Regions from separate parts of the Homo sapiens genome. Here regions 1 and 3 are each linked to region 2. Evidence: fine-mapped expression QTL. A gene starts in region 2. Each other region holds a variant in brackets. All regions are shown on one strand. Distances are from middle to middle.

Region 1 (8,326 bases), 280 kb after region 2:
TGTGAAATGTCTTGTCTGATGAACTTTGTACTCACATATTTCTTTTAATGATAAGGGAAGAAGAATCTGACCATAAGAGATTTTTGCACTGATTTGAAAGCAATATATCTTTTTCTGAAATATGTCTCCCAGCTCAGAATCATAGATCATCTTTGTGCAGTGGTTTGTGAGGTTTATTCAAACCACAGGTAGTGCTGATTGAAGTCATAGATTTTCCATGGGTAGAAATGTACGCTCAATACATTTTCAGCTGCCTTAGGGATATAGTGAACTCACATCCATGACTTAAAAACAGTCTATGAGGCAGGCGAGCTGGCTCACGCCTGTAATCCCAACACTTTGGGAGGCTGAGGTGGGAGGATTGCTTGAGCCCAGGAGTTTGAGACCAGCCTGGGCAACAAAGTGAGACCCCCATCTCTACAAAAAAATTAAAAAAATAGCTGGGCATGGTGGTACATGCCTGTGGTCCCAGCTACACAGGTGGCTGAGGCAGCGGGATTGCTTGAGCCCAGGAGTTCAAGATCAGGCAGGGAAACATAGCAAGACTCTGTCTCTACCAAAAATTATATAAAAAGTCTATGTACTATATATATCAGTTTGCATTATTGCTGCATTGAATGACCATCAGTTGTAGGTGGGACTTTGAATTGTAGATGGCAAAAACTTGGTTTTACCTAGTCTCTTCAGCTTGAGCTAGTTCTGCTCGTTGCATTTATTTTTAATTTATTTTTTAAAAAAGGAATGCAGAGTGCCAGAACTCAATGCTCATTGCTTTTAAAATAAACATAATATAAAATAAACCTTTTAAAAACAAAACGAAAATAAACCTCTGTAATAAAGATTTCTTGGATTCAAGTATAAAACATTATCTGGGAAACTGCTTTCATTGTGAAATGTTCTGATGTACCCATTTAGTAGCTATGGAAACATGGAACAACAAACCAAGGTGTTGGGGTAGGGGGGAAGAAAACATGTGCTTGAGCTATAGTTTTTTTTTTGAGATGGAGTTTCTCTCTGTCACCCAGGCTGTAGTGTAGTGGTGCGATCTCAGCTCACTGAAACCTCCGCCTCCTGGGTTTAAGCGATTCTCCAACCTCAGCCTCCTGAGTAGCTGGGATTACAGATGCCCACCACCATGCCTGGCTAATTTTTGTATTTTTTAATAGAGACAGGGTTTTGCCATGTTGGCCAGGCTGGTCTTGAACTCCTGACCTCGGGTGATCTGCTCGCCTCAGCCTCCCAGAGTGTTGGGATTATAGGCATGAGCCACCGTGCCCAGCCAAACTATAGTTTTAACTGGTTTCTCTTTTTTTTTTTTTTTTTGGAGATGGGGTCTCGTTCTGTCACCCAGGCTGGAGTGCAATGGCACAATCTCGGCTCACTGCAACCTCCGCCTCCTGGGTTCAAGCGATTCTCCTGCTGCAGCCTCCTGAGTAGCTGGGATTACAGGCGTGCACCACCCCACCCGGCTAAGACAGGGTTTCACCATATTGGTCAGGCTGGTCTGGAATTCCTGACCTCATGATCCCCCCCGCCTCAGCCTGCCAAAGTGCTGGGATTACAGGCATGAGCCACTGTGCTTGGCTTCCTTTTTTTTTTAAAAGAGTTTAGTTCAGAGGTCAGCAGATTTGGACCCAAATTTAGAATTTGGGTCCGAAGGTCATCTGTATGGGGGAAGAGTACCAGATGGGAATTGACAGGATTGAGGGTGGCTCTGACTTGCCTCAACTAGCCGTGTGACCTTGAGCAACACACCTAATGTCTCTGCTTATCCATCAATTGAATAACTGGACCACGCCCAGCTAATTTTGTATTTTTAATAGAGACGGGGTTTCTCCATGTTGGTCAGGCTGATCTCGAACTCCCAGCCTCAGGTGATCCACCCGCCTCGGCCTCCCAAAGTGCTGGGATTACAGACGTGAGCTACCGCACCTGGCCATAAGGATTATCTTTCTCCCTCTAATTTTGTGGCTGTAGAGTTTGATTTAAGTTTTGATTTCACTTCACTTCTTTTTGAGATATTTGAAAAATTAACTGAAGGGTTTTAGTCGTCTGGTTCACAGCTGGTTAGATAAATCCTTTCTCAGTCCTGTCATTTCCAAGGATCAGGATGTCCTTTAAGGTGCTTGTCCTCTCTCCACAGGTGACACGCTGTTGCAGGCCCTGGACTTACTGCCCTTGCTCATCCAGACAGTGGAGAAGGCAGCCTCCCAAAGCACTCAGGTTCCCACCATCACTGAAGGGGTTGCCGCAGCCTTGTTGCTCTTAAAGTTGTCAGTGGCTGACTCACAGGCTGGTATGAGTCCAGAGGTGTCTAGGATGGTAGAGACAGGGGCCTCTGACAAGAGTCCTTGGGAGGTGTGTCTTGATGTTCAGGATTAGCTTGGTCCTGACCACACTGGATCAGCCACAGGTTTGCTTGTCATCTGCAGGATGAACCTCATGGTTGCATGGGCAGTGGGAATGCAGTCAGGGGACTGTGTCACTGTCCTCCTTCATTCTGTTGCTCCAGTGCTACACAGGCTTGTAGATGATACCTAGATGGACCAGGGTTTAGTATTGGGACTGTTTGTTTCAGTTGGTTATACATTCATACAGTACAAAATTCAAAAGGATATAACATGAGAAGCTTCCCCTTAGCCCTGTCTTTTCCCGTAGCCGTTAAGTTTCCCTCTGTAAACGGTGTTACCAATTTTGCACTTTGGGAGGCCGAGGCAGGCGGATCACGAAGTCAAGATTTCGAGACCATTCTGGCCAACATGGTGAAACCCCGTCTTTACTAAAAGTACAAAAATTAGCTGGGTGTGGTGGCGCATGCCTGTAATCTCAGCTACTCGGGAGGCTGAGGCAGGAGAATCGCTTGAACCCAGGAGGCGTAGGTTGCAGTGAGCTGGGATTGCTCCACTGCACTCCAGCCTGGGTGGCACAGTGAGACTTTGTCTAAGAAAGAAAAAACAGTATTACCAATTTTATGTCCAGACATAGTGTGTTATGTAATTGAACATGCTGGGGAACATACGCTATATGCCATATTACTTATAATATATAATATATATACTATATATAATATATCTTCGAAATGATTCCAAATCAGTACATCAGAAAGAGCTTTCTCATTATTTTTTGTGGCTACATCGTATTTCAGGCTTTCTTTTCTTTTTTTTTTTTCTTTTTTTTTTTTTTTTTTTGAGACGGAGTTTCGCTCTGTCGCCCAGGCTGGAGTGCAGTGGCGCGATCTCGACTCACTGCAAGCTCCGCCTCCTGCCTCAGCCTTCCGAGTGGCTGGGACTACAGGCGCTACGCCGCCACGCGCGGCTAATTTTTTATATTTTTAGTAGAGACAGGGTTTCATCGTGTTAGCCAGGATGGTCTCAATCTCCTCACCTTGTGATCCACCCACCTCAGCCTCCCAATGTGCTGGGATTACAGGCGTGAGCCACTGCGCCCGGCCAGGCTTTCTTTATTTCATCTCCCAATCTCTGC[A/G]CTGGGACACACCTGAACTTAACTCCTTTGGTTAGGAATGGAGCTCAGCTCTCCTCATGTAATATCGTGTGCTCACTGTGGCCATGCAAGGCACTGGGCTACCTGGGGGAATGCTAAGATGAACATGACCTTCTTCAGCAAATTTCAGGGTGCTTACTTCACAGTAGGCGCGAGGAAATACAGAAATATATCCGTAGCTTAAGACAAAATGCGGCATTAGAGCAGTTTTGAAGGAGAGATTGCTTTTAGTTGGGGGGGTGGGTATTGGGAAGGGCTTCATGGAGGAAGCATTTGAACTGGTACCCTGAAGCCTCTGAAGGATTTCATTATCCTGAAGGGATGGCCCAGTGTGAGTCCAAACAGCCCCAGTCAGGGAAGGGCAGGGAAAGCCAGAGTCTGTAAACCTCAGGTATTCCAGCTTGGCGCCTGGGGTGGATGGGAATTCCGGATGAGAAGCAGTTCACCTAGGATCCTGTAGGCAGCAGAGAGCCACCGAAGAGTTTCGTACAGGAGGTGATACCAGAAGGACTGAGGTCAGTTCCCCAAATGGAAGAGCACTGAGCCTCCTGCTGCAGAGGAGGGTTTGTCAGCAAAGCCCACCCCAGCAGCTTCAGGATGGAGTAGATCAGCTCTGGGGGATGTGGTGAGCTGCGTCGTGGGGTAACCTTTTGTTTCTTGCAGAGGCCAAACTGAGCAGTTTCTGGCAGTTGATTGTGGATGAGAAAAAGCAGGTTTTCACTTCTGAGAAATTCCTGGTCATGGCTTCAGAGGATGGTAAGTTACTCCATGCTTAGTTGAACTCGGGATTGAGGCAAAGTCTCTTTGGAAAATCTTCAGAGAGGACCCTTTCTTGACCAACCAGTCAGGTCTGCAAAAACCTGGGCCAGAGTGATCTGGCCAACAGCTTAGCTGTTGTGGGAATAAATTCATTCCTGTAGGGAACATAAGGTTAGGGAAATGGGACTTGGGAGATGTGTGGAGACAGAGCAGTAATGGCTGTGGAGCTACGACATGAGCTGTAATTATAGCTGATTGGGTAATTGGTGCTGTCTCGGAGGTTTTCTTGTGTTAAGGCAGCTGAGAAGCTCTTGTGGAGTCTGGCAGGCTCTACTCCCCCACCAAGAGACACAAAAACTACTGGTTTCTATCCTGGCAGAAAAGGAACAGTTGAATTTTAAATATGTGTTTAATATTCTACGTTGCCTTAGGAGTGTCTGCCACTAATTGGTGATTTGAAGAGTCGTTTGACTCATAAATCGCAACATCCCATTAATGAGCTACAACTGTTAGTCATTTCCTGGTTTTAGAAAAATTTTTAGCTAAATTTTGAAAAGGAAATAGACTAATGTAATTCAAAAATAGATACAAGAGGGTCTACATTGAAAATTATACCCCTGCTTTGATCTCTGGCTACCCAGTTCCTCGGCTATAGATAACCAATTTTATTAGCTTCTTCTGTAGCCTTGATATTTTATATATATGCAAGTAAATACCTGTATATGTTTGTTCTGTACCTTTTTTACACAAATGGTAGTGTGCCTGCCGTATGTACTGTGCTTTCTAGACCTGGAAATGAGTCCATATCAGTATATAATGAACTTCATCATTCTTTTTTTTTTTTTTTTTTTTGAGATGGAGTTTCGTTCTTATTGCTCAGGCTGGAGTGCAGTGGCATGATCTCAGCCCACCGCAACCTCTCCCCCTGGGTTCAAGCGGTTCTCTTGCCTCAGCCTCCTGAGTAGCTGGGATTACAGGCATGTGCCACTACCACCAGGCTAATTTTGTTTTTGTTTTTTTTTTTCTTAGTAGAGATGGGGTTTCTCCATGTTGGTCAGGCTGGTCTCGAACTCCCGACCTCAGGTGATCCACCTGCCTCGGCCTCCCAAAGTGCTGGGATTACAGGCATGAGCCACCATGCCCGGCCTCTTTTTATAACTCCATAGTAATTTGTTGTTGTTGTTGTTGTTGAGACAGGATCTCACTCTGTTGCCCAGGCTGGAGTGCAGTGACACAGTCATGGCTCACTGCAGCCTCGACCTCCCTGGTCTCAGGTGGTCCTCCCACCTCAGCTTCCTGAGTAGCTGGGACTACAGGTGCACACCACCACATCTGGCTAATTTTTGTATTTTTTTTTAAGAGACGGGGGTTTCACCATGTTGCCCAGGCTGACCTTGAACTCCTGGGCTTAAGCAATTCTCCTGCCTCAGCCTCCAAAAGTGTTGGTGTTACAGACATGAGCCATCGTGCCTGGCCTTAGTAATTTTTTTTTTTTTTTTTTGAGACAGAGTCTCGCTCTGTCGCCCAGGCTGGAGTGCAGTGGCGCGATCTCAGCTCACTGCAAGCTCCGCCTCCCGGGTTCACGCCATTCTCCTGCCTCAGCCTCCTGAGTAGCTGGGACTACAGGTGCATGCCGCCACGCCTGGCTAATTTTTTGTATTTTTAGAAGAGATGGGGTTTCACAGTGTTAGCCAGGCTGGTCTTGGTCTCCTGACCTCATGATCCGCCCACCTTGGCCTCCCAAAGTGCTGGGATTACATGCGTGAGCCACCGGATCAGGCATTTTTTTTTTTTTTTTTTTTTGAGACAGTCTCACTCTGTTGCCCAGGCTGGAGTGCAGTGGTGCAATCTCTGCTCATTGCAACCTCCACCTCCCGGGTTCAAGCAATTCTCCTGCCTCAGCCTCTTTGAGTAGCTGGGACTACAGGTGCACACCACCACACCTGGCTAATTTTTGTATTTTTAGTACAGACGGGGTTTTACTATGTTGGCCAGGCTGGTCTCGAACTCCTGACTTCAGGTGACCTGCCTGCTTTGGCCTCCCAGAGTGCTGGGATTACAGGCGTGAGCCACTGTGCCTGGCCGTAATTTTTAATTATTAAAAAAAAATAGGCTGGGGCCGGACACGGTGGCTCACGCCTGTAATCCCAGCACTTTGGGAGGCCGAGGCGGGCAGATCATGAGGTCGAGATCGAGACTATCCTGGCCAACATGGTGAAACCCTGTCTCTAATAAAAATACAAAAATAAGCTGGGCGTGGTAGCAGGTGCCTGTAATCCCAGCTACTCGGGAGGCTGAGGCAGGAGAATCTCTTGAACCCAAGAGGCGGAGGTTGCAGTAAGCCGAGATTGCACCATTGTATTCCAGCCTGGGTGACAGAGCAAGACTCCGTCTCAAAACAACAACAACAACAACGAAAACAAAATACATAGGCCTGGCATGGTGGCTCATGCCTGTAATCCTAGCACCTTGAGAGGCTGAAGTGGACTGATCACTTGAGGTCAGGAGTTCAGAATTATCCTGGCCAACATGGTGAAACCTCGTCTCTACTAAAAATAGAAAAAAAAAAATTAGCCAGGCTTGCTGGTGGGCTTCTGTAATCCCAGCTACTCAGGAGGCTGAGGCAGGAGAATTAGTTGAACCTGGGAGGCGGAGGGTGTAGTGAGCCAAGACTGCACCACTGCACTGTAGCCTGGGCAACATAGCGAGACTCTGTCTCAAAAAAAGTAAAAATAGGCTAGGTGCGGTGGCTCACGCCTGTAATCCTAGCACTTTGGGAGACCGAGGCAGGTGGATCACCTGTGGTCAGGAGTTCAAGTCCAACCTGGCCAACCTGGTGAAACCCCGTCTCTACTAAAAATACAAAATTTGGCCTGGTGCAGTGGCTCACGCCTGTAATCCCAACACTTAGGGAGGCTGAGGCAGGTGGATCACGAGGCCAGGAGATCGAGACCATCCTGGCTAACATGGTGAAACCCAGTCTCTACTAAAAAATATAAAAAAATTAGCGGGTGCCTGTCGTCCCAGCTACTCGAGAGGCCGAGGCAGGAGAATGGTGTGAACCTGGGAGGCGGAGCTTGCAGTAAGCCCTGAGATCGTGCCACTGCACTCCAGCCTGGGCGACAGAGCGTGACTGTCTCTCAAAAAAAAAAATATATATATATATATGTGTGTGTGTGTGTGTGTGTGTGTGTGTGTGTGTATATATGTGTATATATGTATATGTATATATATGTGTATATATGTGTATATGTGTGTATATTATATATAAAATAAATAAAAATAGTATATACTTTACTGATTCCAAAATACATGTGTGCATAAGCAAAAAAAAAAAAACAAGCTGTAATTTCACTTCGAGTGATAATCACATTTATATTTTGGTGTTAATTTTCAGTTCATTCCAGTTATTTCTGGGTATTGGTATGTATGTGTACACTTAACTATTTTAAAAACACTTCCATTCCTTTTCTTCCCTCCAAGCCCTGTGTACTGTGTTGCATCTGACAGAGAGACTTTTCCTTGACCACCCGCATAGACTCACTGGCAACAAAGTTCAGTACGTGAGGCTGGCTTACCTTTTCTTTTGGGCCAAATGAGGCAAAGGCTGGCAGGAACCCGAGAAAGGGTGTGTGGCAGGTGGAAGGGTTGGCTGTGGAAAGCCCTGCTCTTGGCCTTCCCCCAGACCTGTCTGTCCCTGTGCTTGCAGGCAGTACCACCGGGCTCTGGTGGCGGTGCTCCTGAGCCGCACCTGGCACGTCCGCAGGCAGGCTCAGCAGACAGTTCGGAAGCTGCTGTCCTCTCTTGGGGGCTTTAAGCTGGCGCACGGACTCTTGGAGGAGCTGAAGACTGTCCTCAGTTCTCACAAGGTGAGGGCATCTGGGCTCTAGAACTGGGGCTCTTGGATCCACTTAGCTGCCCCTGCTTACGATGTGGGGTTTTGGCTGGGCCACTCCCTGGGTGTTCTTTCTTAATCTGTGTGATGCCAGCATCTTCTGCTCTGCCGTCAAGCTCCAGTAACATCTTTCATAGGATTCCTTTTCCTTTTCAGAGACTTTTTTTCACA
Region 2 (8,326 bases):
ACCTGAGGTCGGGAGTTTGAGACCAGCCTGACCAACATGGAGAAACCCTGTCTCTACTAAAAATACAAAATTAGCTGGGCGTGGTGGCGTGCACCTGTAATCCCAGCTACTTGGGAGGCTGAGGCAGGAGAATCGCTTGAACCTGGGAGGCAGAGGTTGTGGTGAGCTGAGATCGCGCCATTGCACTCCAGCCTGGGCAACGTGAGCAAAACTCTGTCTCTAAAAAAAAAAAAATTCATTAAACATTTACTGTGGCCGGGCACGGCAGCTCAAGGCTGTATTCCCAGCACTTTGGGAGGCTGAGGCAGGCAGATCACCTGAGGTCAGGAGTTCAAGACGAGCCTTGCCAACATGGTGAAACCCCTCTCTACTAAAAATACAAAAATTAACCAGGCATGGTGGTGCATGCCTGTAATCCCGGGTGCTCGGGAAGCTGAGGCAAGAGAATCTCAAACCCAGGAGGCAGAGGTTGCAGTGAGCCGAGATCACGCCACTGCCTCCAGCGTGGGCAACAGAGTGAGACTCCATCTCAAAAAAACAAAACAAAACAAAACAAAACACATTTACTGAATACTCAGTGCCAACCACTGAGAACATGATAAGGAAAAACAGACATGCTGTGGAAGGTGGGTGAGCAGGAGAGGGGCAGAGACTCAACACATCCCTTAAATAGATGTATAAACGCATGTATAAATCAGCCCTTTTGGATATCACGAGAGCCACAGGTAGAGAACCTAAGTATAGCCAGGCACAGTGGCTCACGCCTGTAATCAGCACCTTTGGGAGGCTGAGGTGGGCAGATCACGAGGTCAGGAGATCGAGACCATCTTGGCTACGGTGAAACCTCATCTCTACTAAAAATACAAAAAATTAGCCAGGCGTGGTAGTGGGCACTTGTAGACCCAGCTACTTGGGAGGCTGAGGCAGGAGAATGGCATGAACCCAGGAGGCGGAACTTGCAGTGAGCCAAGATCACGCCACTGCACTCCAGCCTCAGCGACAGAGCGAGACTCTTGTCTCAATTAAAAAAAAAAAAAAAGAACCTAAGTATAAAAGAATGAAGACTTGTGGCTCACGCCTATAATCCCAGCACTTTGGGAGGCCGAGGCGGGTGGACTGTGAGGTCATGAGTTCGAGACCAGCCTGGCCAACATGGTGAAACCCCGTCTCTATTAAAAATACAAAAATTAGCTGGGCGTGGTGGCGGGCGCCTGTAGTCCCAGCTACTCGGGAGGCTGAGGCAAGAGAATCACTTGAAACCGGAAGGTGGAGGTTGCAGTGAGCTGAGATTGCACCACTGTACTCCAGCCTGGGTGGAAGAGTGAAACTCCGTCTCAAAAAAAAAAAAAAAAAAAAAGGAATGGACTTTTTTGGCCAGTGCAGTGACTCATACCTGTAATCCCAGCACTTTGGGAGGCGAAGATGGGCGGATCACTTGAGGCCAGGGGTTCGAGACCAGCCTGGTCAACATGGTGAAACCCTGTCTCTACTAAAAATGCAAAAACTAGCTGAGTGTGGTGGCGGGTGCCTGTAATCCCAGCTACTCCGGAGGCTGAGGCACAAAAATCACTTGAACCTGGAGGGTGGAGGTTGCAGTGAGCCAAGATCATGCCACTGCACTCCAGCCTGGGTGATGGGGCAGGACTCCACCTCAAAAAAAAAAAAAAACTTTCTTGAGGAAGTGGGAGGCTGAGGCAGGAGGATTGCTTGAGACCAGGAGTTTGAGACCATATGGGGCAACATGGCAAGACCCCGTTTCTACAAAAATTTTAAGTATTAGCCAGGTGTGGTGGTGCACACCTATAGTCCCAGCTATTTGGGAGGCTGAGGCAGGAGGATCTCTTGAGTCTAGAAGTTTGCGACCAGCCTGGGCAACATAGTGAGACCCCGTCCCAAAGGAAAAAGAAAATTGCAAAGTAGAGAAGACATTTGAAAGAATCAAACACGGCCAGGTGCTGTGGCTCATGCCTGTAATCCCAGTACTTTAGGAGGCTGAGATGGGTGGATCACCTTTGCTCAGGAGTCCAGACAAGCCTGGGGAACATGGCAAAATCCCGTCTCTATCAAAAATACAAAAAATTAGCCAGGCCAAGTGGCACGCGCCTGTGGTCCTGTACTTGGGAGGCTGAGATGGGAGGCTCTCTTGAGTCTGGGAGGTGGACATTACAATGAGCTGAGATCATGCCACTGCACTCTAACCTGGGTGATAGAGTGAGACTCCATCTCAAAAACAAATAAAATAAAAATTCAAGGCAGGAATAAAACAGTAACTACATAATGAGCTCACATTTTAATAAAAGAGATATAACAAATGAACAAAAGTCCATTAAAATGTTAGGGAAAAAACCCAATAGGATGAGTTACTAACTAGAAGGGGAGAAGGGATTTGGAGTGGTTAGGAGAGCCCTTTCTGAGAAGATAAGCTGAGACCTGTGCCAAGAGGGAGGCAGCCATGCAAATACTGAGAGGAAGGAAAAAAACGAAGGGCCAGTGCAGAGATCTAGAGAGGAAAAGAACTTGTCTTGCTGGAGAAGCAGTCAAGGTAGCCAAGGAGAGTACTGAGAAGAGTACGTTGGAGTGAGTAGGTAGGGACTCTATGGAGTAGGGCCTTAAAGGCGATGATTAGGCCAGGCGCGGTGGCTCACACCTGTAATCCCAGCACTTTGGGAGGCCGAGGCGGGTGGATCACGGTCAGGAGTTCAAGACCAACCTGGCCAAGATGGTGAAACCACGTCTCTACTAAAAATACAAAAAAAATAAGCCGGGCCTGGTGGCAGTCGCCTGTAATCCCAGCTACTCGGGAGGCTGAGGCAGAGAATTGCTTGAACACGGGAGGCGGAGGTTGCAGTGAGCCGAGATCGAGCCACTGCACTCCAGCCTAGGCAACACAGCGAGACTCCGTCTCAAAAAAAAAAAAACAAAACAAACAAACAAAAAAAAAAACAAAGGCAGTGATTAGCAGTTCGGGTTTTGTTTCCACTTACACTAGCGAGAGCATCAGTAATGAACAAGGGGAAGAGTGAAGCCACTGACTCGCGAGGTGACTGTGGGCAAGTTCCTGAATCTTGCTAACACTCTTTAACCCCCTGGAAAACTGTTCGCTAATCGTCACATTAAACGGCTGCGAACGGGCCACGGTCAAGGCTTCGGGGCTGCAGCCGCGAGTTTACCTGTCCTCCAGGACCGATTCCATGGGCTCCACCCCGTCTGTGTCCACGGCGCGTAGCCGGTCGGCGAAGGCGATAGCTTTCTCCAGTCGCGCCACTGCCTCGCGGCTGCCGAAGTCCACAAGCGCTAGACGCTCCAGGTGCTCGATCACCGCAGCCGTGATCCGGCCACTGCCCTGGAGGAGGGATGAGGCGGGGAGTGTGGGTCACCGGCGCTCCGAAGTGCCTCCCGGCTTGCTCCGCCACCCGCCTAGATGGCCCTGGCCTTTACCTGAGGATCCGCCTTGGAGGTGAAGCCCTGGCGCCCGCCCAGAGGGGCCCGAAGGCCCAGCCACACCAACCGCGACCACATTTCTTCCTTCCTTGGCCCCCGCAGTGCGCCCGCGCGTAACGCCGAGCGACGCGCCTGAGAGTGATGACATCAGAGTGCGCCGTCGTCGCCGCCGCCACCACTGTCGCCATGAACAGTGTGGGGGAGGCATGCACGGACATGAAGCGCGAGTACGACCAGTGCTTCAATCGCTGGTTCGCCGAGAAATTTCTCAAGGGGGACAGCTCCGGGGACCCGTGCACCGACCTCTTCAAGCGCTACCAGCAGTGTGTTCAGGTGAGCCCTCCCGCCTCTGTTCCCAGGCCCTGCATTCTCGGCGCTGTGTCCCACCACACTCATCGTATTTTACGGGGATTGGGACTGGACTGGAAGGGTGGAGAAAAGTCGCAGTGAGGCCAGTGGCAGGAGCTCGCTCCCCTACCATCACCACCGAGGCCACTTGGGTGTCTCTCCGAATGACAAATATTGGGGCAGTGCTTTTCAAGAAGCACAGTCACATCCTTTGGTTCATTTGGTGTTCACCCTAAACTCGCAAGGTGGGCATAGTTACTCATATTTTATACATAAAAAACTAACACCCAGAAATAGGAAGTGATTAATCCGAGTTCACTAGCATCAGGTTTCCTTGGTTCTTTCGCAGGTGGTGCACTTTTCCACTATTACTGCTGGGGTCTGGGCGGGATTATACTTCAGAATTCAGACTGGAGGGTCACATTTTTTTGTTGTTATAAACCCTTCGTTAGCCTGTTTCTCTCTCTTGACCAGTCCCCGCAACTGCAGCCAGGAAATGTTTATTCTGGCCCAATGGATGTGGAACTGCTTTGAATTGTTAAGAACAGCACCGGGCAAAGCACTTCCAATAAGTTAACCCAACACATCCTCACAGCAATTCCCCGAGGTAGTTGCTGTCTTCATCCCATTTACAGTTAGTCACATAGCCAGTAAGTCCTGGAACCCAGATTTGAACCTAAGTCTTTCACTAACACAAAGTGATGATTATTTTTCAAATTTCACTTAATTTTAACGGTTCCCTCACAACTCCTTTTCCAGTCTCCCTCAGGTCTTACACTTGATTTATTCATTATGGTACTTCTGGTTTTTATTTATTTTTGAGGCAGAGTCTCACTCTGTCTCCCAGCCTGGAGTGCAATGGCACAATCTCAGCTCACTGCAACCTCCGCCTCCCAGGTTCAAGCTATTCTCATGCCTCAGCCACCCGAGTAGCTGGGCTTACAGGCATGCGCCACCATGCCCAGCTAATTTTTGTATTTTTAGTATAAACAGGGTCTCGCCATGTTGGCCAGGTTGGTCTCTAACTTCTGGCCTCAAGTGATCCACCTGCCTTGGTCTCCCAAAATGCTGCGATTATAGGCGTGAGCCACCACACCTGACCGGTACTTGTTTTTTAAAAAGTATGTGGTTTGAATCATGGTTATAAGTCTTTATAATCAGCTTGATTTTACTTTTGTACTGTCATATTTTATTTACAAAGCTTGCAACTTAAGCTTCATGTAGGTCTTTATAATGTGTTTTCTCCTCCTACCAGAAAGCAATAAAGGAGAAAGAGATTCCTATTGAAGGACTGGAGTTCATGGGCCATGGCAAAGAAAAGCCTGAAAATTCTTCTTGACCTTGACAGTCACCTTGAAGGATTTCGCAAGTCCAGAAATTGAGGACTCTGGATTTTTGTCAACTAACTCTGTGAACATAGCCATCAGATTTGATGAGGAACTTAGGAGAGAGGAGTTTTATTTCCTCCTTCGATGTTTTCCTCTCAGTTGTAAAAGATGAACTCTTTGAGATGATTTCTCACCTGCTGTGGTATCTTGCAGGAACTGTGTGCTAAAATTGAACAATTTTTTTGAGATTATGGTTGCAATACTTGGCGTGGAATCAGCTTTACATAAATATACCTTGTATGCAAACGATGATAAACTAGTCAGGATGAGCAGAGCTGCCTGACCTCTTGATTTCTGCTGCAAAAGACATATACACTGTACTGGGGTCACTATTTATGAAAGCAATTGGTTAGGACCTCTTTTTTTCCTCTCAGGGAACTAATGCTCTGAAAAGGGATCTGGGCACAACAGTTTCAGTGAGTGCTTTTGAGCACACTTTTATTTTTATATAGTAACTAATGGTTAAGATTGATGGTGGCCTGGATTAGCAAAGAGGAAGACAGCTTTTAACACAGTTCCCTGCCTTCACAAGAGGTGTCAGATTAAGATGTGAAAGCTGCAAGAATGTTGCAGTGAACACCATTTCAGAGCTCTCAGTGTGCAGTTCAGGAATTAAGATACTTGGAATAGCTGTGGAGGAAGAACCTAAATTGCAAAGATCTGCTATTGCCAGCTCTCAACCCAAGTCAGTGAATTGTCAACCTGCATATCCTAAAAATGTCAAAATGCTGCATCTGGTTAAATGTCGGGGTAGGGGGGAAGCTGAAGGTGCTCGCTTCATTTGCCTTGTTTACTCATCCTGCCCTGTAATGTCTGTAATCCTGAAGATGGAATAAATTGTAACATTTAGTTTCTATCATTATTTGCCTCTGGAACTCAGTGCATTTTATGGAACTATTACCCTGTTACCCTACAAACCTCATATATACAGTGGGGAGAGTTTTGTGTTTTGTAACTTAAAGGTGAAGAAAAAGTGACTTGTCTTAAGCTAGGTGGTACAGTATGGCAATCAGAAACCTCACATTTTTTTTTTTTGAGACAGTCTGGTTCTGTCACCCAGGCTGGAGTGCAGTGGCGCAATCTTGTCTTACTGCAAACTCCACCTCCTGGGTTCCAATGATTCTCCTGCCTCAGTCTCCCAAGTAGCTGGGATTACAGGCATGCATCACCATGCCCAGCTAGTTTTTGTATTTTTAGTAGAGATGGGGTTTCACCATGTTGGCTGGTCTTGAACTCTTGACCTCCCGAAGTGCTGGGATTACAGGCATGAGCCACCGCACCCAGCCAAAACCTCACTGATTTCTAAAATTTCCACAATAGGCTATACAAATACACTACGGTACCAAAAAAGGATCAGGAGAGCACTTACTTACCTCAGAATGTCACGTAATCCCCACAATTAATTGAGTAATTTGGTTTTATTAGATACCCAAAGTAGTATGAAACTTGAATTACAGGCCGGGTATGGTGGCTCATGCCTGTAGTCTTAACACTTTGGGAAGCTGGGATGGGCGGATCACTTGAGCTCAGGAATTTGAGACCAGCCTGGGCAACATAGCGAAACCCTGTCTCTACAAAAAAATTAGCTGGGTATGGTGGTGTGTGCCTGTAGTCCCAGCTACTCTAAAGGCTGAGGTGGGAGAATTACCTGAGCCTGAGAGGTGGAGACTGCAGTGAGCTGTGATTGTACCACTGCACTCCAGGCTGGGTGACACAGCAAGACCCTGTCTGAAAAATAAACCAAGAAACTTGATTTATAGAAGGCCCTAATTCTATTGTCTTTTCTCCACTTTACCAATTGCTACATCATATTTAATGTGACTTGTCCTTAATGTCATTTCAAAACATTCTTCATTTATATTTTATGACTGGCTAGGGTCCATTATCCAAGGATTATAAAAGATGTTTGGAACCCAGCCAAGGGAGGCCAGGCAGCAAGCTGAAGTATAATGCATCTGTCCTAAACTCAGACTGGCCACAACCAAAACAGCTCTATAGGGACTCAGAAGTGCAGGCTGTAATATTACAAAATGGCAAAGACAATGAGATTCTCTATTCCGTTAATTATTACAAAATGGCAAAGACAATGAGATTCTCTATTCCGTACTGTATATGCCTTACTTTTGCGTTACCAGTTTAATGTAATATAATATGAAATACCTTGTTGCCTCTTGAACCTTACCACGAAAGTGTTCCTTTGAGCCTTAAGAATAAACCAGCTGGCTGGGCGCGGTGGCTCACGCCAGTAATCCCAGCACTTTGGGAGACTGAGGTGGGCAGATCACCTGAGGTTGGGAGTTTGAGACTAGCCTGACCAACATGGAGAAACCCCATCTCTACTTAAAATACAAAAAATTAGCCAGGTGTGGTGGCACATGCCTGTAATCACAGCTACTCAGGAGGGTGAGGCAGGAGAATTGCTTGAACCTGGGAGGTGGAGGTTGTGGTGAGCCAAGATCATGCCATTGCACTCCAGCCTGGGCAACAAAAGCGAAACTCTGTCTCAAAAAATAAAATAAAATAAAATAAACCAGCTCTGGCCAGGCACAGTGGCTCAGACCTGTAATCCTAGCACTTTGGGAGGCTGAGGTGGGCAGATCACCTGAGGTTAGGAGTTCAAGACCAGCCTGGCCAACATGTGAAACCTTGTCTCTACTAAAAATACAAAAAAGTAGCCGGGCGTAGTGGCGGGCGCCTGTAGTCCCAGCTACTTGGGAGGCTGAGGCAGGAGAATGGCGTGAACCCGGGAGGTGGAGCTTGCAGTGAGCCGAGGTCCCGCCACTGCACTCCAGCCTGGGCGACAGAGCGAGACTCCATCTCAAAAAAAAAAAAAAAAAAAAAAAAATAATAATAATAATAATAATAATAATTGCCCTCTCAGAGTGGTTTTGTAACTACTACTACTACCATTTACTATCCATTAAAGCAGGATAGTTTTAATTCCACAGAAAAGCCAATAAGCAGAAATGTGTCACGCTCCCTTTGTTTCTCTTAAGATTTCTGACCCTACCAGCCCTGAAGGAGATTACCTCAAAGTAAGAACTTGACACATTCGAGGCCAGGCACGGTGGCTCACGCCTGTAATCCCAGCACTTTGGGAGGCTGAGGCGGGTGGATCACGAGGTCAGGAGATCGAGACCATCCTGGCT
Region 3 (8,326 bases), 260 kb after region 2:
ACTAAAAATACAAAAATTAACTGGGCGTGGTGGTGCGCACCTTTAGTCTCAGCTACTCATGTGGCTGAGGCAGGAGAATCACTTGAACCTGGGAGGCGGAGGTTGCGGTGAGCCGAGATCGCACTACTGCACTCCAGCCGGGGCGATAGAGTGAGACTCCGTCTGAAAAATAAAAGGCGGGGGGGCCTTAATAACACTGCCCACCTTACATGGATTAAATGAGTGAATGTGTATGAATGATCTAGAGCAGGGTCTGGCATCTTGTAAGCACTAAGAGCTAGGGTGTTATTAGTCCTCTCTTCTTCTTCATGTGTTCTGAATAGGTATTATGCCTTCTTAACCCTGCACTCTACATGTATCTCCCTCTCTTTCCATTTTTCCAGAGCCTACTAATCTGATAGGCCAAGCTTATGTGTCCTTCAGACTTTCAGAAACACTCCAGTTATAGGTGTTCTTCCCTTTTCTGGTCCCTCATAGTACTTCAGTGTTGCACTGTTTTTTAAACCGTTTATTAGAATGTATGTGAAGAAAGGTACGCCTCCTAATGGAACAGCTCACTGAATCATCACATGTTAAACACCAGTATAACCAGCACCCAGATCAAGAAGTAGAACCATTCCAGCACTCCTGAACCTCCTCTTGATGGCATGTGAGGTTTCGAGGCCACTTTTATTTTCTTAGTTTCGTTCATTTAGCAAATGTCTACCCAAAGCTTTTCTGTACCAGGCATTTTCCTAGAGTCCTGTTTTGTTGTTGCTTTTTCCTCTTGGGGAGGAAGGTCTTAAATATATGGGGAGTGTCCAGTGGGCTGAGATCATGTCTGGGCAGAATACCTGACTCCAGCGGCTTACCAAGTGATTTTTATTGACCGCTGTCTGTGTAATCTCTGGTTTCAGATCTTCCAGAGGGAGCAGTGAAGGGGCTCTGCAAATTGTTCTGCTTGACTCTGCATCGATATAGGTGAGTCCCAGCCAAAGGCCCCATATGTGGAGCACTTTGTACAGAGAGGGGATTTAGAGTAGTGGTTAGAGCCCAGATTAGAGCCAGACTGCCTGGTGCCAAATCTGGGCTATGTCACATCCTAGCCATTAGATCCTGGGCAAGTTACTTAACCTCTCTGTGCCTCAGTTTCCTTGTCTGCAGAATGGGGATGGTGCCATTCTCTATCTCATGGGTGGTTGTTAGTAAGCGTGAGGTGCCTGGAACAGTTGCCTGCTGTGCCATAGTGGTCAATGTGTTTATGCTGCCATTTAGTCATGTGTGTTAAATCGTCTGGCCTACTTTGAGACCCTTATAACTGCTCCATAAATGTAGGTGCTGCCCTTACACACTCAATGGCTTATTTGCCCTTATGAGATACTTTTAGAACTCTAGGAGGAGGTGAGTTTATCTAGTTATTTCCTAATCCCTTCTCTGTTATCCACTGGAATATGGTGTGATCAGTTTCTCCTGAGAAAGACCAGTGTATGGCCTGAGCAGCCTTGCCCCTGCCTCTGCCTGAGGTCTGCATGTTCACCCTTTCCTTTGCCTCTCCCCCTAGAGATGCAGCCTCCCGCAGGGCCTTGCAGGCAGCCATCCAGCAGTTGGCTGAGGCCCAGCCAGAAGCCACTGCTAAGAACCTTCTACACTCTCTGCAGTCTTCTGGTATAGGCTCCAAAGCAGGTGTTCCCAGGTAAGAGGTAAAAGTTGTGGCCCCCTGAGAATTGGTACAGTCCTGCTCAGGAGAAGCTGATGCAGTTGACTGTGCACCAGAGGGAGGAGCCAGGATAGCAAGCTTAGTGGAGAAAACCACTTTCCCGAGGAGCAGGGTTGGGAAACAGTGGAAGCAAGGCCATTTTGAGGGGAACCAGTTGCCCACCAGGCCCCTAATGGTGGAAGCCATCTGTTTGTTTTTATAGTTGTCAGTGCCAAGAGATGGGAGTTTGGCCACTGAAGCCTGGACTTCTTGTCCTGAATTGCCACAGATGGTTTGTGGGGAACTTGTTTCAAGTTCTGTTCCATGAGGTGAAGGGAGGGTCCTGCATTACCAGGCGGGGCCTTAGGGACAGTGTTCGTCCTCAAGGTGGAGGCTGCTGCTCTGAACTCATCCCCAACTCTGCTCTGCAGTAAGAGCAGTGGCTCTGCCGCCTTGCTGGCCTTGACCTGGACCTGCCTCCTGGTGCGCATTGTCTTTCCATCGAGAGCCAAGCGACAAGGAGACATCTGGAACAAACTGGTAGGTTCCCTGTGTCTCTGAAGTAGCAAGGGTCAGCTTTCTGCCAGGAGTTAGAGCATGTTTCAGCACCTTCTTGGTGCCAAGTGCTTTTCTGGGTGCTGGGTGACCAGACACTCTGAGTTGTCCCGAGGTGTGTGGCTTTGGTGGATGGCCATGAGTGCAGCATAATCACATTGTTTGGTGTATTAGACATTTTGGAGCTTCTCTGTCAGGCATGGTGCTAGGCACTAGAAATGCAGTGATGCACAACAGAAATGAGGCCCCTGATTTCATGGCATGTGTGGAAGCCGTGACAGGCCAGAGTTGGGAAGACAGCCAAAAATCAAGTAGACTAGAAAATATCATAGTGTAAATCCTCTTGGTGTTTTTCTGGCTGATCATTCCATTCCCTGTGTTTGATTTCAGTGTTGAACTGGTGAATGGAATGGATTTTTTGTCTTGGTTTTGGTTCTTAAATTCCCTCTTTCCATTCTCTACCTGCTCCTTCCATATTCTCTTCTTTTTCTTTCCCCATGTCTGCTCACCAGGTTGGGAGGTGAGCAGAGCAGACATGTGCCTGGGTAGGCTTAGTGTAGGTCATGAGGAGTGGTTTTTTAGTGTAGGTCATGAGGAGTAGTTTTTTTTTTTTTTTTTTGAGACGGAGTCTTGCTCTGTTGCTCAGGCTGGAGTGCAGTGGTGTTGGCTCACTGCAACCTCTGCCTCCTGGGTTCAAGCGTTTCTCTTGCCTCAGCCTCCCGAGTGGCTGGGATTACAGGTGCCTGCCACCACACCTGGCTAATTCTTTTGTATTTTTAGTGGAGACAGGGTTTTTCCATGGTGGCCAGGCTGGCCTTGAGCTCCTGACCTCAGATGATCCGCCTGCCTTGGCCTCCCAAAGTGTTGGGATTATAGGTGTGAGCCACTTTGCCAGGCCTTGGATCTGATTCTTGTCCATGAGACTTGGCTGAGTCACTTAACTTCTGAGCCCATTTCCTCATTTGCAAAGTGGGAAAGAAAATACTACTCACCCTGTCCACCTCAAAGAGTTGTCGCAAAGCCAGGTTTCGTTGAGGGTTGAGATGACTGTGGAAACTGGAGAGTCCCAGGCAGGTAG[G/A]TGCCAGTGATGACCGGCCTTAGGAAACACAAGTACCGCTCCATGAAGCAGCCTGCTGGTTAGATAGAGGGCTGCATCCCTGGGAGCTTATCCAGCGCACCTCTGGGGACAAACATGGAATGGCTGTCAGTATAATTGATTGATGATGGATTAGAATGCTGAAACCTTGAGGGTCAAGGATTACGTATTGTGAGCTGGGACTCTCTTGGATTTGCTTCAGGGAATGGGTGTCATTGTTACCAAAAGCCTCCTTGTAAGAAGGGGCAAGCTCATTGGCTTATCTGCACTGAGTGGTTTTTTTTGTTTTTTTTTTTTTGTTTTCTTTGAGAGACAGAGTGTAATTCTGTCACTCAGGTTGGAATGCAGTGGCGCAATCTCGGCTCACTGCAACCTCTGCCTCCCAGGCTCAAGCAATTCTCAACCCTCAGCTTCCTGAGTATAACTGGGACTATATGTGCATGCCACCACACCTGGCTAATTTTTGTATTTTTAGTAGAGATGGGGTTTCACCATGTTGGCCAGGCTAGTCTCAAACTCCTGACCTCAGGTGATCCGTCTGTCTCAGCCTCCCAAAGTGCAGGGATTACAGGTATGAGCCATTGTGCCCAGCCTACTTTTTTTTTTTTTTTTTTTTTTGAGACGGAGTTTTACTCTTGTTGCATAGGCTGGAGTGCAATGGCGCGATCTCGGCTCACCGCAACCTCTGCCTCCTGGATTCAAGCGATTCTCCTGCCTCAGCCTCCCAAGTGGCTGGGATTACAGGCATGTGCCACCATGCCCGACTAGTTTTGTATTTTTACTAGAGACGGGGTTTCTCTATGTTGGTCAGGCTGGTCTCGAACTCCTGACCTCAGGTGATCCGCCCGCCTCGGCCTCCCAAAGTGCTGGGATTACAGGCATGAGCCACTGCACCTGGTCGTGCCCAGCCTACTTTTAAAAAAATGTATTAAAAAATTTTTTTATACACACACCATGATTCTGCAGACTTCTTTTTTTTTTTTTTTTTTTTTGAGACAAAGATCTTGCTCTGTCACCCAGGCTGGAGCACAGTGGCATGATCTCAGCTCACTGCAGCCTTGACCTCCTGGGCTCAAGCGATCCTTCTGTCACAGCCTCCTGAGTAGCTGGGACTACAGGCATGCTGGTGTATGCCTGGCTGATTTTTGTATTTTTTTAGAGATGGGGTTTTCTTTTGTTGCCCGGGTTGGTCTCGAACTCCTGGGCTCAAGGGAACCACCTGCTGCGGTCTTCCAAAGTGCTGGGTTTATAGGTGTGAGTCACCACGCCCAGCCAGTAATCCTTTCTATACTATGCTATATATAGGGAGTCCTCTGTTGCTTACGGTTTTTTATTGTTACTAACAGTTCTGCAAAGAATAACCTTGTACATATGCCATTTTGTATACATGCAAATGGAATTTATCAGCATTGCTTTCCACAAGCATATCTGCTTGCTTGCTTTTTCTTTTTCTTTTTTTTTTTTTTGAGACGGAGTCTCGCTCTGTCGCCTAGGCTGGAGTGCAGTGAGGCGCAATCTCGGCTCAGTGCAAGCTCCGCCTCACGGGTTCACGCCATTCTCCTGCCTCAGCCTCCCGAGTAGCTGGGACTACAGGCGCCTGCCACCATGCCCAGCTAATTTTTTTTGTATTTTTAGTAGAGACAGGGTTTCACCGTGTTAGCCAGGATGGTCTCGATCTCCTGACCTCGTGATCCGCCCGCCTCAGCCTCCCAAAGTGCTGGGATTACAGGCGTGAGCCACCGCGCCCGGCCACAAGCATATCTGTTTTCTGAGGGTGGCAGTTCACACGACTCACTAGTGACCTTGGGCATTTATGGCACATAAAGTCTCTGAGATTTTTGTTTGTTTTTTTTTGAGACAGAGTCTTTCTCTGTCACCAGGCTGGAGTGCAGTGGCGCTATCTCGTCTCACTGCAAACTCCACCTCCTGGGTTCAAGCGATTTTCCTCCTGAGTAGCTGGGACTACAGGCGCCTGCCACCACACCCGGCTAATTTTTGTATTTTTAGTAGCGACAGGGTTTCACCATGTTGGCCAGGATGGTCTCGATCTCTTGACCTTGTGATCCGCCTGCCTCAGCCTCCCAAAGTGTTGGGATTACAGGCGTGAACCATTGCACCTGGCCTTTATTTTTTGAGATGGAGTTTCGCTCTCGTTGCCCAGGCTGGAGTACAAAGGCGTGATCTCGGCTCACCGCAACCTCTGCCTCCTGGGTTCAAGCGATTCTCCTGCGTTCAAGCAATTCTCCTGCCTCAGCCTCCCGAGTAGCTTGGTTACAGGCATGCGCCACCACACCCAGCTAATTTTGTATTTTTAGTAGAGATGAGGTTTCTCCATGTTGGTCAGACTGGTCTTGAACTCCCGACCTCAGGTGATCTGCCTGCCTCGGCCTCCCAAAGTGCTGGGATTACAGGTGTGAGCCACTAGGCCTGGCAGCCTCTGAGATTTTTTTAGTCAAGGACCTATTATGTATGTCAATCTGGGTTGGACGGTGTGAGCTCCATGCAGTTCGAATCCCCATATCAAGATGCACTTCTGTATTCACAGTGCTCAGCATAGAGCCTGCCATGCAGTGGTCAGTAAGTATTTGTGGAATTAATGAAGGACAGGTCAAGGCAGATAAGAAGTAAATGAAACAGGACCCTTAATTCTTTACCTGCATGGCACTTAAACCTCACTGAAATTGTATGTTCATTTGTGTATTTATTTGTTTAATATCTCTTTTTTCCTCTGAATTCTAAGGTACATGAAAGCAGGGACCGGCTGGGCGCAGTGGCTCACGCCTGTAATCCCAGCACTTTGGGAGGCCGAGGCGGGCGGATCATGAGGTCAGGAGATCGAGACCATCCTGGCTAACATGGTGAAACCCCGTCTCTACTAAAAATACAAAAAATTAGGTGGGCATGGTGGTGGACACCTGTAGTCCTAGCTACTCGGGAGGCTGAGGCAGGAGAATGGTGTGAACCCGTGAGGCGGAGCTTGCAGTGAGCTGAGATCGCACCACTGCACTCCAGCCTGGGCGACAGAGCGAGACTCTGTCTCAAAAAAAAAAAAAAAAAAAATTAGCTGGGCATGGTGGCACGCACCTGTAGTCCCAGCTACTTGGGAGGCTGAGGCGGGAGAATCACTTGAACCCGGGAGGTGGAGGTTGCAGTGAGCCGAGATTGTGCCACTGCACTCCAGCCTGGCGACAGAGCGAGACTCCGTCTTAAAAAAAAAAAGCAGGGACCATGTCTGTCTTCCTCCCCTTGTGCCTTCATTGTCTGATTCATAATAGGTGATCACCAAATATTTATTAAACGAACACTAGTGGGAACAGTGTCGTTAAAGGACAGAACTAAATGTGTGGGGTGGAGGGAAGAGGAGCTGGCTGGAGTTGAGTGGGAGAGGCTGAGTGGAGATGAAGCCAGGATTTGGAGGGTCTGATGGAGGTCTTTACAGGCTATGAGAGCCATGGGACCCTCAGTCTCATGTCCCACCTTGACCTGAGTCTTCCCTGGTCCTGGCAGGTGGAAGTGCAGTGCCTGCTCTTGCTGGAGGTGCTGGGTGGCTCCCACAAGCACGCCGTGGATGGTGCTGTGAAGAAACTCACGAAGCTGTGGAAAGAGGTGACAGGACTGCAGGGGCTGGTGGGCATTGCTTCTTCCATGCCACTCCCCCACTGCCATCTTAAACACCTGCCTGGCACTTTCCTCTTCAGAACCCCGGGCTGGTGGAACAGTACTTGTCAGCCATTCTCAGCCTAGAGCCCAACCAGAACTATGCTGGCATGCTGGGGCTGCTGGTGCAGTTCTGCACGAGTCACAAGGAGATGGACGTGGTCAGTCAGCACAAGGCAAGTGCCAAGGCAGAGTGACTGTGGGTTTGCTATGTTGGGGATGTTGGGAGCTCGCTGGAGGGAAGGAATGGGAACCTGCTTTGCCCTGGTGACCCTAGCTGTTGACCTTATCTGAAACTTGTTGGTTTTCTCATGTGAGACTCTGGCCTTTTGCCATGATACATGAACTTCTAGGAGCTGGAAAGTTTCCCTTCTGTTTCTGGCTTGGGTGATAGTTTGCTTGTTCATGCAGTCACTTATTCATCCCAATTTAGTGGCTGCCATGTTCTAGGCACTGTGCTCGGTGTTGGGGGTACACCAGCGAGTAAGGGAGCTATGACCCCTGCCCCCATGGAACTGAGTCTGAGAAACTGACATTAAACAGATAGTCTAGCTAATTATAACTAGTATGTGCTACAAAGGGAAAGTGTGAGAAGTCGTGAGACTCCACAACGGAAGGACCTGATTTAGGCTGTGGGTCAGAGAACACATCACTCTAAAGAAGGAACTTTGAGAGTGAAGAGGAATTAGCAAGGTCAAGAGGTGAGGCAGAGCATTTTGGGCAGAGGAAGCAGCCTGTGGGCAGGAACAGAGAGGAGGCGAGCGGGGTTGGAGTGGCAGGAATGGGTTAGAGTGAGACGCAGCCAGCTGAGTGGTGGGCAGGACCTTATAAGCCATACGAAGGACTTTGGACTTTATCCCGGGGGCCATGGAAAGCTGTGGAAGGGTTTTAAGTGGGGTTGCGTGATCAGTGGGACCTCTATGCTTAACACTGAAATTTGGGGCATTGATTTGTATTTTTTGGAGGCACTCTCACAAGAGGGACCCCTTAGGCCAGTGATGAGATACTTGAGAATGTCAGGATCTAACCAGAGCTTTGTGTTCTCTAGAGCGCCCTACTGGACTTTTACATGAAGAACATCCTGATGAGCAAAGTCAAGCCTCCGAAGTACCTGTTGGTGAGCGAGAGGTGGACGTTACTCACCTGGACAACTGATCCCATTTTCAATTCTGGGATGCTGAACTCTTTTTTGCTTCTTGGTCCGTTCCCATGAGGGCTAGGTGCCTTATTCCTTTTTCTTTGTAGGATAGCTGTGCCCCTCTGCTCCGATACCTGTCCCACTCAGAATTTAAGGATCTGATACTGCCCACCATACAGAAGTCCTTACTGAGGAGTCCAGAGAA

Evidence for each region. PIP is the estimated chance that this variant, and not a neighbour inherited with it, causes the effect.
Region 1: its variant is fine-mapped to the expression of TRIAP1 in whole blood (TOPMed, PIP above 0.99).
Region 3: its variant is fine-mapped to the expression of TRIAP1 in whole blood (INTERVAL, PIP above 0.99).

What each region holds. Positions count from the first base shown.
Region 1 is chr12:120,164,139-120,172,464 of GRCh38, reverse strand. It overlaps GCN1 (GCN1 activator of EIF2AK4), which reads left to right. Exons shown (of 58, transcript NM_006836.2): 15 at 2,144-2,296; 16 at 4,165-4,257; 17 at 7,744-7,819; 18 at 7,970-8,129. Among named protein-coding and RNA genes, the nearest start is that of MIR4498, 13 kb to the right of the region's middle. RefSeq lists an enhancer at 5,484-5,533. The variant A/G (reference allele first, on the strand shown) is at 3,484.
Region 2 is chr12:120,441,674-120,449,999 of GRCh38, reverse strand. TRIAP1 (TP53 regulated inhibitor of apoptosis 1) reads left to right here and starts at 3,616. Exons shown (of 2, transcript NM_016399.3): 1 at 3,616-3,774; 2 at 5,045-6,036. The coding sequence starts at 3,628. The coding sequence ends at 5,128. GATC (glutamyl-tRNA amidotransferase subunit C) reads right to left here and starts at 3,556. Exons shown (of 4, transcript NM_176818.3): 1 at 3,439-3,556; 2 at 3,171-3,343. The coding sequence starts at 3,519. RefSeq lists enhancers at 2,741-3,586, 3,420-3,714, 3,312-3,861, 3,076-4,275, 3,587-4,434.
Region 3 is chr12:120,177,458-120,185,783 of GRCh38, reverse strand. GCN1 (GCN1 activator of EIF2AK4) reads left to right here. Exons shown (of 58, transcript NM_006836.2): 3 at 897-960; 4 at 1,541-1,672; 5 at 2,107-2,215; 6 at 6,834-6,932; 7 at 7,025-7,159; 8 at 8,032-8,100; 9 at 8,229-8,326. Among named protein-coding and RNA genes, the nearest start is that of GCN1, 13 kb to the left of the region's middle. RefSeq lists an enhancer at 378-1,577. The variant G/A (reference allele first, on the strand shown) is at 3,309.